2 separate regions of the Homo sapiens genome follow, and region 2 is linked to region 1. Evidence: fine-mapped expression QTL. Tissue or cell type: thyroid. Region 1 holds a variant in brackets; the other region holds the start of a gene. All regions are shown on one strand. Distances are between the middles of the regions.

Evidence for each region. PIP is the estimated chance that this variant, and not a neighbour inherited with it, causes the effect.
Region 2: it holds the start of PTCHD1, and the variant in region 1 is fine-mapped to the expression of PTCHD1 in thyroid (GTEx, PIP above 0.99).

What each region holds. Positions count from the first base shown.
Region 1 is chrX:23,690,813-23,693,572 of GRCh38, reverse strand. No RefSeq gene overlaps it. Among named protein-coding and RNA genes, the nearest start is that of PRDX4, 25 kb to the right of the region's middle. The variant G/AACAG (reference allele first, on the strand shown) is at 1,151.
Region 2 is chrX:23,333,300-23,335,799 of GRCh38, reverse strand. It overlaps PTCHD1 (patched domain containing 1), which reads right to left and starts at 951. Exons shown (of 3, transcript NM_173495.3): 1 at 574-951. The coding sequence starts at 924.

The DNA of each region.
Region 1 (2,760 bases):
AGGAATTGTATCAGATCTTTTTATTCCTATTGTCTAGCAAAGTCCCTTGCACATATTTAGGTAATAAATGTTTTTTGTGTGAACAAATATACGATTTAGGTGAATTTGGGTGTTCGAGTTGGCTTTTGAATTTGTTAATTAAAAAAAATTGTAAGTTTAAGACTCAGGAAGGAGGCTCTTTTAAAATATATTTTTGGGCTGGGCACGGTGGCTCATGCCTGTAATCCCAGCACTTTGGGAGGCTGAGGCGGGCCATTCACTTGAGGTCAGCCTGGCCAACATGGTGAAACCCTGCCTCTACTAAACATACAAAAATTAGCCAGACATGGTAGTGCTTGCCTGTAATCCCAGCTACTTGGGAGGCTGAGGCAGAATTACTTGAACCTGGGAAGCAGAGGCTGCAGTGAGCCGAGATTGTGCTGCTGCACTCCAGCCCCTCTCAAAATAAATAAATAAAATATATTTTTAGCATTTTACATAAATGTACAATATTATGCTAAAATTGTTATTTAGTAATAGGATTGGTAAAAATTACTTTGCTATATGAAACTAAATACATAGTAACTATGATAAACATTTTCTTTTCTGTTGAAAAGCTAGGTAAAAAATATGAGTTTATAGAAGCATCTGTGTGTGTATATATACATATGTATATCTATGTGATATCATTATATATATGTGATATCATTATATATATATAGCTTTTTGTCCATGGTTCCTGGCTCATAACTCCCATAGCCCTTATTATTTCCCAAGTGATTAAGCAATAAGCATATCTTTTGTTAAAGTGTTCGTCCTTTAGTCCTTGGTTCCTGAAGCAGCTTTGGAAGTGCTTCAGAGCGATCAAAGGAAAAGACCATCTTTGGTTTTAATGTGCGGGTGCTGTAGGCCTCAGAAGCAGGGCTCAGAAAACAGCCTCTCCCGCTGACCTTCTCATACTCTCCTTTTTCACCTGCTCCTTTGTCTCTCCAAGGCAGGCCATAGAAACTGAAAATATAATCTGCCCCCACCTTTGTATTTGGAGCCGGTCATAAAGAAATTCTCTGACCTACCTTGTCTGATTGTAGGTCATAAGATCCTCATTTTAGAAAGGGTCCTGCCCTCAACCCAGGAGGAAGGAGTGCCGTGCAGAGAGGCCAACAGGAATCTG[G/AACAG]ACAGGCCTTGCTAGGATTCCCCACTCCGTCTATTAGCATTAGATCATGCCCTTTTTGCCCAATCACGTTTTGCACTTGATCTTAGCCAAAAGGCCGAGAAGCGATCCAATCACATTTTGACACGGTTGTCCATGCTTCAGTCATGCCTATCCAATGAAGTCTCCATAAAAGGCCCAAGAGGACCAGGTACGCAGAACTTCTGGACAGCTGAGCTGGTGAAGGCTTGCAGGAAGGTGAACAAGAATTCACCCATGTGTTGGGATGATGGTGCACCCCAACTCCACGGGAATAGAAGCTCCCGTGCTCAGGACCCTTCCAGACCTCGCCCTATGTGCCTCTTCATCTGGGTGTTTATTCGTATCCTTCAAAATATCCTTCATAAGAAACTGGTAAGTGTAAGTGGGCGTTTCCCGGAGTTTTGCAAGCTGCTCTAACAATTGAGCCTAAAGAGGGGGTCATGGGAACCCCAACTTGAAGTCAGTCAGTCAGAAGTTCCAGAGGCCTGTACTTGGGAGCTGGTGTCTGAAGTGGGGGCAGTCCTGTGGGTCTGAGCCCTCAACCTGTGGTATCTGATGCTATATCCAGGTGGACAGCATCAGAATTGAATTGGATCAGAAGATTCCTGGCTGGTGTCCACTGCAGAATTGCTTGCCTGTTGGTGGGGAAAATCCCTACACCCTACACATTTGGTCACAGAAGTCTTCTGTATTGATTGTTGTCATGTGAGAACAGAGGAAAAACAGTTTTTCTTTTTCTTTTCTTTTCTTTTTTTCTTTTTTTTTGAGACAGGGTCTTGCTCTCTTGCCCAGGCTGGAGTGCAGTGGTGTGATCACAGCTCACTGAGGGCTTGACCTTTTGGGCTTAAATGATCCTCCTGCCTTAGGCTCAGGAACAGCTGGGACTACAAGTACAAGACACCACGCCTGGATAATTTTTATACTTTTTGTAGAGATGAGGTCTCACCATATCGTCCAGGCGGGTCTCAAATTCCTGGGCTCAAGTGACCTTCCTGCCTCGGCCTCCCAAAGTGCTGGGATTATAGGCATGAGCCACTGCACCCAGCTGTAAAAGTTTTTTGACCCTATATATATGTATGAATATATATAGACACACAAATACATAGATATGTGTATATATATTCCCCTCCACTGCAGACACTTTTATGAAACTTTTTTTTTTGAGAGAGAGTCTTGTTCTGTCACCAAGGTTGGAGTGCAGTGACACGACCTTGGCTCACTGCAACCTCCGCCTCCTGGGTTTAAGCGAGCACGTCCAGCTAATTTTTGTATTTTTAGTAGAGACGAGGTTTCACCATGTTGGCCAGGCTGGTCTTGAGCTCCTGACCTCAAGTGATTCGCCCGCCTCGGCCTCCCAAAGTGCTAGGATTACAGGTGTGAACCACTACGCCCGGTCTATGAAATTATTTACCTGAAACACATATTTTGTTACATCTTATATATTAATAACCTTGTATTCAAAGATTTCTCAGTGACATAGTGTTGTCACAAAGTTCATAGGGGGGTTAGGATACCAAAATATCATTAAATAATAAAATAGTAGTTAATGTGTTTGAGAACAAAATATACAACCTGGAAACCTAGTGACAGAT
Region 2 (2,500 bases), 360 kb after region 1:
CACACTTCTTTCTGGGTGGGTGGGAGGCATCTTCATCACCATCCCGCCTCACATTCTTTTGTCCTTTCCCAACATCCCACACCAACAACCGTTCCCCAAACACTCCGGGGGGCCAGAAAAAGGGAGAAACAAAACTGAGGACAGGGAGGGGTATCTCGGAATCCCCTCCAAGCATAGTATTTTGTTCTCAAGTAGTAGGACTTTCCAGAATGTCTTCTCTCGTTCTGCTCCTTGCTGGCCCAGTTACCCCAAAGCCTCCCCACCCCCAAGCCCACTGCGACCAAAACAAGCGCACCGACCACAGCACTGTGGCCGCCGCCGCCCCAACTGTTGCAGCAGCTGCGGGGTGGCGGTAGAGGCGACGCGGGCAGGGCCGGACCCGGACCCCGACGCTCCTTGTCCAGGAGGCTGGGAGGCTCCAGTCGGCCGCCCTGGGGCGCGCGGTGCAGGAGAGTCCCTGCGGCAGCTGCCTGGGCTAGGAGAGGTGGCGCTCTCAGCCGGGACCCCAGCGCAGAGCCAGCCCGACCGCGGCCGCGGCGCTGGCGGAGTCTGCCCGCACCCGTCCCCTCTCACCTTTAAGATCAGGTCGGTGTGATGCTGGTCCAGCATGTTGGCTTTCTGGAAGGAGGTGACGATGACCCGGCCGTAGCGCCCGGGGGTCTGCAGGTCCGAGTAGAGACGGTGCTTGGAGCGGTTGACCGGGAAGAGGCTGTTAACGAGGTTGCGCTCGATCTTGGCCAGGCTGTGCTGGGGCGCCAGCAGGTGCTCCACGCTCTCCTCGACCTGGTAGCGGCTGAAGCTGGCGCCGAGCAGGATGGAGATGAGCACCGGCGCCGAGGCGAAGAAGACAGGGTGACTGGCAATGAAGTGGCCGAGCCGGGAGAAACACGTCCTCAAGCCCCTGTGCAGAACCTGCCGCAGCATCCTAGAGCAGAGCGGGCGCGGGAGGAGGGCGAGGCGCACGCTCGGCGCGGGTTCGGGCGGCGGCGGCGGCGGCGGCGGCGGCGGCGGCAGCGGCGCCCGCGGCGGCGGCGACGGCGGCGGCGGCGAGACCCTGAGCTCTCCCGGAGCCGCGGCACCACCATCGGGGAGTCCCGCGCCGCGCCTCGGGAGGGTCCCCTCGAGCCGGAGACACGCCCTCCTGCCCGCGGCCGCGCCCTCCCGGAGAGCCCCCCAGCTTGGCGGCCTCTGCGCCGCCCCCACTCCGCCCTACCGCGTGCGCCCTCCCCACCCCCCGCGGCCTCCCCGCCAGGGGGGCTCCGCGCCGCGCGGCCGCGTCCCCTCTCAGCGCGGGCGGGGCCCGGGGCAGCCCCCGCGGCTCGTCATGACCCCACTCACCCGACCCCCAAGGCCAACGACGGGGTGGCGCGGGGAGCGGCGACGGCGCTATCGCCAGGAGACTCTGCGCGCCCGCCCAGGAACACGAGGACGGAGAATTCCAGGCTACACCCAGTCCCCTCCCCTCCCTTCGCTCCCCTCCCCCGGTCCGGCCCGCCAAGCTCGCTCTCCCCTTCTCTGCCCTCCTCCGGGAAGACCCAGAGATAAATAAAGAAATGGCCCCGATTTTCCAAACAAAAAGTAAAGAGTTCTCAGGAGTGGGGGGAGGGGGCGGGTGTCGGGCGGACCCGCTCAGAGCCGAGTCTCTCCAGAGGCTTAAAGGAGCAGGCTGAAGACTGCGTGCGTCCCGGCTCTCGCCAGGCTCAGGTGGTGGCGCGCACTGGCTGGTGCCGAGAGGGGGTGGGGAGCGAAGACGCTCGAACGTGGAAATCACGCCTCCTTCCAAATAAGAACCGTTTAAAATACCCCCAACACTGCAGCTTCGGCGGGACCACGGGGTCCGGGTGTGTGTCTGGAGCACGTCCACTCAAAAGGTATCCGTGGAGAATCTTTCTCTGTGGCTCTAATTTAGGGTCGCTCCAGAGTGGATTGGGGCTGGCCAGCTCTGTTGCACACCCCCCAACCTCCCACCCAGTCCTTTAGTAATAAAAGTGCTGATAATGACGGTCAGTCGATGGAACTGTCCGTCGCCTGGGCTCCCGGGCTCCCGAGCTCCGGGGCTCCCCGGCTCCCGGTTCTTCGCCCTGCCTTCTCTTCCTCCTCCTCTCTCTGTCGTCACCAGCAGGTCTGGGGGACCTGGTGCGGCGTGGCTGGCGCGGGCGCCCCTGCGGGCGTAGAGTGTTTGAGAAAGGCTGGCCAGGGAGTCAGTAGCATTAACCCCCTTCTCTGCCTCACTCCGCCCTCTCCTCCCCTACATGCGAAGGTGTGAGAGTGGAGGGAACCTTATCTCAGAGCAGGAGAGATACAGGTCTCCGAGCGTGTTGAGCCGCAGGGGGCGCGGGGGAGCCCGCGGGGCGCCGACGGCTTGGCAAAGTTGGGCGTGTGCGTGTGCGCGCCAGCCGTGAGCTAGCAGGCAGTCACCGTGGTTCCCCTCGCACTCCCCCTCCGGAGAATTCCCCGAGAAGGCGGGCGCCGGCTTCGGCCCCGGGATAGACCTGCGGCG